2 separate regions of the Homo sapiens genome follow, and region 1 is linked to region 2. The links come from fine-mapping of genetic effects on gene expression. A gene starts in region 2. The other region holds a variant in brackets. All regions are shown on one strand. Distances are between the middles of the regions.

Region 1 (5,389 bases), 46 kb after region 2:
CATTTAAGAGATTATTGAGAGATATGTGTCTACCATGTTGAAGGCACTGCCACAGAGCTATGGATATGGCAATAACAAAAGCAGCAAAGTTTCTAGAAGAAGACTAGAATTGTTAGTGAACTATCATCTGAGCTGTGGTAGGGTACCAGGGTGAGGCTGATCTCTGGATTCAATTCCAGTAGCCCTAAGACAAATCAAAACTACCTTTGCCCTTAGATGCTCAACTATACAGAAGTTTATGTACATACAGATTCTGTGACTTTTAATATATTTTGAATAGTAAGGCAATTTGTAAATTACAATTCCTTTTTATAAAAATAATTTTAATCCAAGTTTAAATGAGTGCAATAGCATATTTTAAAAGGGGGGAAGTATACCATTTTCCTTCCTCTTTGTTCTTTCAGCCTCAACTAATGCTCTGGAGAGTCACTGAGCTACCAGTTGTCCAGGCTGATGTTATTCCTGCAGGTAGATTTCCTGTCTGTCAGAAGAAATGAACTTTTGGGGATGGTTTATGCATCCATTAACTCTACCCACTCTTGAATCACTGAGCAAATCTGTTTTCAGCAGGACCATATCTGGCACCAGGTTTGCATACCCCATGATTCCACATCTATTAAAATACTAAGTGCATAGCTAAGAAGCAGATATCTGTGGCAAAATCTTGCCACAGATATCTGCTTAGTGGGAAAAGATTTTGCACCAGAGAGCAAAAGCTATATGGCAAAGGAAATATAAGGTTATTAAAATGCAGTCTGTTTTCTCAGAATAATATAGATTTGCTGCAAATTGGCACAGACAGGCTAAGCTACTGTTCAGTTTAATGGGACCATGAAGATGACAGAAAACATTTTAATTTCTGCTCTCTATGCATATTGAATAATTATTTAAGGATGCATTTGAACTGTTTGCCCAATATAATTCTAACAAAAATCAATGAAAAGCTATAATGGAAGGATTTGTTATTTTCTTTTAAACATTAAGATGGAATAAATGAACAGTTCATAACTCCTGGCCTCAAACAATCCTCCCACCTTGGCCTTCCAAAGTGCTGGGATTACAGGCATGAACCACTGCGCGAGGACAAAAAAATATTTTTTTGAATGAATAGTACTTTGTACAGATGCTGGAACTTTGTTCTAATATCATCTTTAGGATTCATGTCTTGGAAATGACACCATATCCATATTTGTTTACATATTTTTTATTACTGCTTAAGTAAATGTCCCCAAATTGTAAAAGAGCCTAGTATAATACTAAATTGTCACTATAGAGATAATGTTAGAACAAAGACTTCATATAACTTAAAGTGTTTTATAGAGATTACTATGAAATAACTAAAAACTCTCTTTAGCATTTAAGGAAGGGTCTTATCTATTTTCCACAGGGGACTTCAAGTGGACACCATCTATCCACTAATTTATTCATTTATTCAATAAAAAGTTATTAAGTTCCCCCTTTGTGTCTTGCATCACACTAAATGTGGAAAATACTGTTATCAAAAACTTGAATGCTGGTAGCACTATTCCTCTGTGTCTATAGATAAACACTATTTGCTGGAAAGAAAGAAAAAAATATGCAATCTTTGACTATCTTCCATAGTCATAAGAAAACACTCTTAATTATATTACATTTTTCCCTTTTAAAAAGCTTCATATAATAGTTTTTTGGGACAATAAATTTCATCATTACTTACATTTTTATTAACACAATAAATTATAATTGATATTTGAATTGTTATAATCACAAACAGAAATGAGAAATTCATTGTGTACAACCTGAAAATAATATCTAACCAAATGGGTTTGTAAAGAGTAATAAGTGTTTGAGATTAAAAATAAATGTTCAGATTGGGCTGAATAAAATTTAATCGAAATATATATGATTTAAAAAGAAAATGTAAGTTCCAGGGTGAAAAAAAGATGTCACTCCACATCTTTTCTTCTGGACCAAAAACAGGTGCTCCCTGGGAGTTTAACAATAGTTTTAAATTGCCCAGTGATTAATTCTGAGTACCATAGGAACTCACATTTCTATAGTCTTCCAGTGAGTTTACCATTAATTTATGTCACCACAGTTCAATTTAGGTTATACAGAATTAGATAATTTGTCATGAGACGGGACATTTGATGTCAACTTTTCAAATTCCCTTATTTTATAGGTGAGGAACGTGAAATCCAACTTTTTGCAGCTAGTATGAGGCAGAGCCAAGACCCAAGGCCAGGACTCTGGGTTTCCAATACAGTTCTGATCCTTTAAAATGTGTGCCCTCTTCAAAGGGTGAATACATTCAATGATATTCTTTGAAGAGACCACATGGCAATTCAGAATGAGAAGGAGCATTTCATGTTCCTCACTCCTTCCTAGAACCAGAAGAGATGAGGTGTGATTGACCAATACCAACGTGCCATCATGCAGGACCAACCCTTTCCAGGAAAACAGAGCACTTCATGTGCAGAATCCAAATACTCAGCAGAAACCAAGATCTACGCTTAGTGGTTGGTTGATGTTTAACACAGGTGTCATCTGCACACACACACATACACACGCTGAGTTGCTACGTAATGAAACTCTAGGTTTTCCCAGAGAGCCTTATTTGGAAAACACATAACTAGAAAAAAGATCTCCTGTGAATGCTGGGCAAGGCTTGGGGAACAGATCTTTTCCATGGTGTGTAGCTGTCTTCCCACCATCCTTGGCACTGATCACCATGCAACATAAGGCCCAACTAACATAAAAGGAAATGAAAATACCTAAGGCTTCAAAACATTTTGAGTTTGTACTAAGTTCCTAAACAAACAATACAAGTCTTCTGTGACTGACGCTCAACTAAGGGA[G/T]AAAATTCATTACCAGTAGCTTTATTAATATTTCCTCCTTAGTTTCAGAGAGACCATGCACTTTCCAAGTTCAAAAGGAAATAGGTTCTTTGGTTCATCTTTCTATCCATCTCCCCTCCCTCTCGCCAGCCTTCCAGCTTTCTCTCACACTCTTGCCTTCACTAAGGAGTGAACTCACCACACACTCCAGCCACAAGATAAAGACCATTTAAGAGTCACCCCCGATGACCATCATCCCCAACTTTCCATCCTCGTAGCCAGTCCAGTTCAAGTAGTTCCCAGGGAGAAGTCACTACAAGCCCCAGCCTCTACATGGCCATGCCATCTATCAAATGGGCTTTGCTCAAGGATCTGTAACTGTAAATGACTCCCAAAAAAGCCCCAGCAGATGCCATCTGGTTAAGTTTTCCTTCTTACGGAAAAACTAGTCAGGTGTTTTGATGAAGGCCATTCTCCAATCAAGCAATTCTTTATCAAAGAAGCCTAAGCCAGGGCAAAGTCCTTTTTCAGCAGCTGAAGAATTTCTGGTTTTACCTGCCAGTGAAACTCTAAGGGAATAAAACATGGAAAGATGGCTCCTTAGATAAGCAAACTCACTTTGTCCACAGAAAGGAGCTTTGGCTTCTCAGTAGAATTTCAAACCAACATCCCTTCTTTCTTCCTCCCTGTCCCTATTAGAATACAATTTACCATATACATTGGGAGGTCTGGCCAAATAAGCCCTTCATGCAGTTCCTGCAGCTGTAGTTGTGAGACACCCAGGGCACTGTTTAAGCAGCAGCTGTGTGGGCCTTACTGAAGAGATGGAGATGGAGCAGGCCTGGGTGAGGCTCAGAAATCTGCATTTTAACAGGTGTCCTAGATGATGCTGAGGCAGGTGTGTCTTACCTTAAGAGTCACTGTGAGAAATACCCTTGATAAAGTAACACTGAATTCCTGTCCTACAAATAAAGAGGAGGGAGACTTCTGCTTCTGGGCAAGACGGTGTGAGAGGGAGCTGATATACCCAACCCACCTGAAACAAAGAAAATCTATGCAACAACGATTTTCAAAACTCTGGGCATTAGGCAAGGAAGGACAGTGACTCCTAAGGGATGAGAAACCAATAAGGGAGTTATGTGATCACCCAGCTCGCTGCCTTGAGTGTTTCCTGGCCTGGGAGCAGGGGCAGCAACCCAGGTACCACCTGGCAACTCCCTGAGTTGAGGAGACATTGCTGAGGGTCCAAAAAGGAGATCCAAGGGGCCAGAGTTTGCAGGACCCAGTGCCAGAGAGTAGAGCACAGTACAGAGGGAGATAAAGGGAGAGGTCTGATGTGGGGGATTCCTGGAGTCTTCAGCTGAGGCTTTGCTGGCACAGGCGTGTGAGGAGCCCGGAGGCCAGGAAAGAGCCATCAGAAAGGACTAGAAGGAACAGTGTCTTTGGCCAAGAATGACACCTAGTCCCACCAACTAGACCGAAAAACTTCAAAATTCACAGACATGGGTAGAATACTCAGAAGGGTCTTGCCTCAGTAGCAGAGAATAATCAGTCCTAAACTAAATGCGGCTCTGGTCCTAACAAGTCTTAAAAGCAGACCTTAGGCCGGGCGTGGTGGCTCACGCCTATAATCCCAGCACTTTGGGAGGCCGAGGTGGGCAGATCATGAGATCAGGAGATCGAGACCATCTTGCCCAACACGGTGAAACCCCATCGCTACTAAAAGTACAAAAATTAGCCAGGCCTGGTGGCATGCGCCTGTAGTCCCAGCTACTCAGGAGGCTGAGGCAGGAGAATCACTTGAACCCAGGAGGCAGGGGCTGCAATGAGCCGAGATAGCGCCACTGCACTCCAGCCTGGGCAACAGAGCGAGATTCTGTCTCAAAAAAAAAAAAAAAAAAAAAAAAAAAAAAAAAGCAGACCTTAAAAGGATCAAACTGATTTTAAGTGATTCAACCGCCAACTGTAGGATACAAAGTGGTGAGTTTTGTTATGAACAAAATAACTCAGTCAAACTGGGATGTGAAGCAGTTCACTTATTTTACTTTTATGTGTATCTTTTAAATTATCATGTACCTTTGTTCCCTTAAAAAATATAGTTATCAAAACAATGTTTAAATATTATAAGATTTGTCTTTGTGTAGTTTAATGCCTGCATAATGGAATTTCTAATGCACTTGGCTGGCAGTTTCAGAATGCAGCACACAGTATTCTCCATTAGGGGGTTCTGTAAGACTAAGAAATAGGACACTCTTGTGCTCTTTAAAAATAGATTGTAATTCTGTAAGACAGAACATGTGCTAGCAGCCTGTTTCATCCCTTTCACCAATAGTATCTTTGAGCACTAGAAAAAATAATGCTGCAACAAAATGAATCTTGGCATAGAAGAAATACTATCTCATTATCATTTAACTTCTGTTCGTTTTAATAAATATGCAGTGAATGTACATTAACTGTCACCATTCCTGGCTCTGGGACTGAGGGTTGACTAAGGCACAGCCTGTAACCAATAAGTTAAAGTGTACATGTGACCCAAGAATGATGCAAAGCCTACACACACTGGTGATACATGA
Region 2 (5,389 bases):
TCTCCACAGCTCTCTTTGGGTGAGGACTCCTGGCTGCCACTCCAACCTTTCCATTCATGATAATAATTGCATCCTTCTTGGTCTGCTACCTATAGTCTACCACCCAGCCTCTATCAATCTGGGATCTTACCATCCCCATTGCTGTTATATAGAAGCCCACTGCTGTTATATAGAACCATCCCAGTTATATAGAACCCCGGCACAATATACAGTATCAGCCCTCCCCTAGAGGGGGTAGCCACCATTGAGTTTCTCATTGACACATTGCCCCTCTCACCAGCTCATTTCTTACAGCTTTGGTAAAAGGTTGCCTTCTGGGTGCCCCTGTGAAATACAGTGAACTGGTAGATTGTTCGGTCTTACAAAGTACAGTAGGCCCCCATTATCTGTGGGAAATACATTCCAAGGCCACCCCACAGGTGGATGCCTGAAAACGCGAATAGTACCAAACCCCATATATATGATGTTTTTTCCTATACATGCACTGTGGCACTTTTGCAGTTTGAGGTATAACCACAAAACTAGCATAAATTTATTTGTCCTTCTTCACAATTTCACAGGTAAAAAATTTGTTCTTACCATGGATCTTAGCAACCTCAGCATATAATTTTTTTTCCTTAAGAACTTTTACCTTTTCACTTAAAGGAAGCACTTTACGGCTTCCCTTTGGCATATTTGAATCACCAGCATCACCACTCTTGTGCTTTGGGGCCATTATTAGGTAAAATGAGGGTGCCTTGAACACAAGCACTGCGATACCTCGACAGTCCATCTGATCACCGAGATGGTGAAGTGGCTAACTGGAGGGAAGTGTTGACAGTGTGTATCCACTGGACAAAGGGACAATTCACATCCTGCGGGGGACAGTGCAAGACTTCATCACACTACTCAGAACAATGTGCAATTTAAATCTTACAAATTATTGATTTCTGGAATCTTCTATTTAATATTTTCAGCCCACAGTTGACTGGGGGTAACCAAACTGTGGAAAGCAAAACCATGGATAGGGAGAACCAGTGTACAGTTGTCCCTCAGCATCCATAAAGGATTGGTTCCAGAACCTACCTTGGATACCAAAATCTATAGATACTCAAGTCTGTGATATAAAATGGCCTAGGATTTACATATAACCTACACACACCCTCCCATACACTTTAAATCACCTCTAGATTACTTATAATATCTAATATCATGTGAATGCTATGTAAATAGTCACTATACTGTATTGACTAGGGAATCATGACAAGGAAAAAAATGTCTGTACATGTTGAGTATGGGATGCCACTTTTTTCCCAAATGCTGAATATTTTCAGTCCGAGGTTGAATGAACCCACAGATACAGAGAGCTGACTGCATATCCACCGTAGCATTCCTGCTTCTCGGAGCCTTTTGATCTCTTTCTTCATCATCTGCTAAGGCATTTCTCACATATCTCCTCCACATAGTTGATCATTGCATTTCTAAGAAAGAAAAGAGTCAACAAAGATACCCCAAGAGTCAACCAAGAAGAGTGCTAAATTCTCTATCTCAGGGGAGTGCTCCCACATAGATAAAGTTTCCAGTATCCAACTATATATTGCATCCTTCTTAACCCAGGCCCTTCAGGATTCATCCCATATATATTCTTCCACTCCTGCTAGTACTTGCTGGCTCAGTCTTGCATCTTCTTTGGTGTCTATTTTTTCCTTCCTTATCACAATCAGCACTTCTCCTGTCAAGTTTTATTGTACTTGACTCTAGTTCAGGGTCTGCAAACTTTGCCTGTAAAGAACCCGATAGTAAACATTTTTGGTTTTGTGGGCCATATGGACTTTGTCGTGACTACTCAGTTCTCCCATTGTAGCATGAAGGCAGCCATAGGCAATGTGTCGTTGAATGGATGTGGTTGTATTAAACTAAAACTTTATTTACCAAAATAGACTGCAGGCTGGATTTGGCCAGGAGACTGCAGTTGCTGATCCCCATTGTATTTACTGGCCTAGTGTCCAGGAATGGAGTTGGGATCAACCCTGACTTAAGAACACGCTATCTTGCAAGAAAAAGCTCCTGCACTCTCTTCAAGCAAGGGTAGCACTAGCTTTTAATAGGGAGCAGTGGGCCCAGACGGTTGAGGGGAATCTGAAGATTCGAGATTTTTGGTGCAGGAACACATATATCCTTATTCCAAGTCTCAGCATCTCACTCCTTCCTAGTCAGGGTCCTGACCTTGGCATAGCACACTTACTAGGATTGAAAATTTTAACCTTCTCTGGAGCCCTCCTGGCCTTATAATTAAGTTCTAGGCTTGATCCTGGCTTTTTTCTACTTCTGGCTGCGGGAGATGAGAAGCTCTTTATAAACTGCCATAGGCCCTCTGGCTTTCACACTTAGCCTTAAATTGGTAATTAATCATTGTATCCTTTCATCCCCTTTCTCTAATTCATTTTATAGCACTCAGAAACAGCCATCCAATTCTATTGTACTTACAATTACCACTTCCCCTGGACCCCTAGATATCTCGGATACTAGACTTACCAATGCATTGCCTTCCAGCAGTTACATCACAGTGACTGTTGCAACAATTGCATAGTTACAGCCTGCCAGGGGCTGTAGGTAATCCACCCACCCACCCCTAGTTATGGTGTCCTCCCTGCTGGCTGGTCAGCTGGTGACCCAGTTCCAGATTCCATTTTAGAGTCTCCTTCCTCGGACCATTCCTAGCACCAGTGGTTTTAGGAATGCTTACCTGAGAAATAGGGTCTGAGGTGGAGATATACATGCAGGACTTTTACTGGGGAGTGCTTTTAGGATCAATACCCATAAAGAAGAGAAAAAGGATTCCATAGAGGGAGAAATTGAATTATGATTCTGTTGCAGTAAAGGCCTTCAGCAATCCCATGGACTGCTGTCAGAGTTGTCTAGACAAGGCAAGGGGCCAGCCAGCCACAGGATGCGTGCTGCCCCCCAAACCCCAACTGCAGAAGGGGTAGGGCCTTGGGCAGGGCAGCTCTCTTCTGCTAAGGGAGGGATTCCCAAAGACAGACTCATTTGTGAGACAACAAAAGCCAGCACTCCTGGCAGCTGGGCGAATGAGTGCCTGAGTCCTGGAGGGGAGATCGGGGCTGCACACCACCGCATCCACTACAAGCATGTGCAGTGGTTGAGTTCATGTCCACAGTAAGCGTGTCAGATAGGCATCCATGAGCCCAGCTTTACTGACACACCCTAGTTACCAGGAATCCTGGGAGAAGCCTTGGGTTCAACTAATTGTTGCGATTGTAATTGTGGTTCCTGAAGGAATTCTAGATGATAAACGCAATAAAGTAGCAGTGATTTATTGTATATAGAAACTTTAAAACCCACTTTTGAAGGGTAAAATAACAAGAAAGAGGAAGGAAAGAATAAAGGAAGGAAGGAAGAAGAGAAGGAAGGAAGAACGTAAGGAAGGAAGAAGGGAAGGGGAGAGGAGGGGAGGGGAGGAGAAAGGAGAAAAATCAAGTCCTCTCAACTCACTAGAGCAGCCATATCTACTTAACTGGAGACAGGTATTATAAAAAGTTATTTTTCTACTTCCCTGCCTTTTAACAGACAACATTTTCTGCTTTTTGGCTGGGGAGAGGACATTTGAAGTACCATGAAGCCAAGTTTGTGACAGTGACAAACTTAAAGAGGTTACAATTTTGAAATATGTAAGTATTTAAGTTGGAATCAACAAAATACCTATTAATGTGTGTGACATGTACAGATGTCCAAATAAATGTAATTTATTTCCTATAAAGTCAGAATAATTGTGTAGGTAGAGTTAGAAAACATCATTTTAAATTATTTTGTCATTGAAGCTGCAAATTATTATAAAATCCCACAGAAATTGATAGTTGAAATGATTTTGAGATTCTCAAGTATTATCATAATACTTGCATAATTTGAAATTCTGATGAGTTCCTCAGAAGTTTATTTCCAAGTACCTGTAATCTTTTCATGTTGTTCAACATTAATTCATAGCCAGGACTTATCTTCAGGCAACTTTACGGCTTGTTCCTCTGTGAAATTCTGTAAGTTGGAGATTATAAACATGAAAACAATCAGTTGGGGCTCTTTTTGGCAGATTTTGAAATGTTGCCATTTGTTCAATTTCTATCCCTATAAACGTAGCAGGTACTGGATCTTATTGGTATCCAAAACATATCATCTCACCTTACATTTATTCTTCAGGAAATTAGGCTCATAGCTAGGTGGATTTTCAACAAGTTAAATATAAACTTTCTGAACCCTCATTATTTGTTGATGCTATTGAGTTCATCTTGAAACACACACACACACACACACACACACACACACACACACACACACACACACACACATTCCATGTGTCTAACTCCTCCTCCATCCCTCTTCAAACAAAATGAACATTAGGACTTTAAATTGCAGGCAACAGCCATAATCAGAAAGCCAGAAGCCACTGCTCCAACCCTGAGGTCCTCTAAAGTTGATTGCAAGGCAGATACTAGGCAAAGATCTCTCTAGATCCTTAGATGTCTGCTTCTTGCTCATGGAGTTGAAAGGATGAAATGAAAGGGCGTGGGCACAATCCCTAGCTTGGTGCTGGCACAGAAGCCCAATAAGGTCCACAATTCCTCATCTACAGTCCCAAATCCCGGAGTTCTGAACACTGAAATATTTTTTGTAAATCCTTTGGCATCAAAATCTGGCCAGAGAGAAGGCTATTTCTAGGCCTCGGTATGAGTGGAATATGTCCCTCTCTAGAAGTATAAATGTGTTTGATTATCAGATGGTCCTCCAAGTCTTATGGAGCTCTGACAGTATCTACAGTATATGCACCCCAATAAATTCCTAAAAGTCCGAACATCTGAGTCTCTAAACACCTGGCTTGAAAGGCTTCTAGCTGGGAGTCTGTGGATCTGTCCTTGGTGGCTCTCTTCTCCTTCCCTTTTTGTTGGTCATGGCCCCTCTCCTTCCTCCCTGGCCATCATTAGTCTATCTGAAATAAAAACTACACTTGGTCAGACATCCTCTTGTGTCAGCACCTGTTAGGCACCTTATCACATATTTTTTGGAAAGCCTGGGATGACCCTGGAAGGGATTGGTAATGAGCCTCATTTTAAAGATAAGGAACCTGACATGGAGAGAACTTAGTGAAGGTCAAGAACTCCCATGCACAGAACTAGGGTTGCACCCCAGTCTCTGGCTACTCAGCCTCTGCTCCTTCTACCACAGCAGGCTGGGATTTACTTGAAGAAACACTGTTTCTTAAGGAACACTTAAAATTCAACCAAGACATTCTCCCTGTGTACCTACAGGCAGTAAAGTGTAGTGCCATAATTCTCAAAGTATGATCTCAGGATGCCTGGATGTCCCTAAGACCCTTTCAGGGGCTTTGCAAAGCCAAAGC

Direction of the effects. Alleles are on the strand shown, and positions count from the first base shown. SD is a standard deviation of normalised expression in the study named.
As copies of T replace G in region 1, the expression in prefrontal cortex of the gene that starts at base 2,481 in region 2 goes up (large effect, 0.81 SD a copy in GTEx).

The links.
Region 1: its variant is fine-mapped to the expression of LINC02150 in prefrontal cortex (GTEx, PIP above 0.99). The same link has a PIP of 0.9 or more in nucleus accumbens.

The regions. Positions count from the first base shown.
Region 1 is chr5:16,484,384-16,489,772 of GRCh38, forward strand. The region is part of intron 3 of RETREG1 (reticulophagy regulator 1); the gene reads right to left. Among named protein-coding and RNA genes, the nearest start is that of ZNF622, 21 kb to the left of the region's middle. The variant G/T (reference allele first, on the strand shown) is at 2,838.
Region 2 is chr5:16,438,622-16,444,010 of GRCh38, forward strand. It overlaps LINC02150 (long intergenic non-protein coding RNA 2150), which reads right to left and starts at 2,481. Exons shown (of 9, transcript NR_104625.1): 1 at 2,467-2,481; 2 at 1,265-1,460; 3 at 632-854.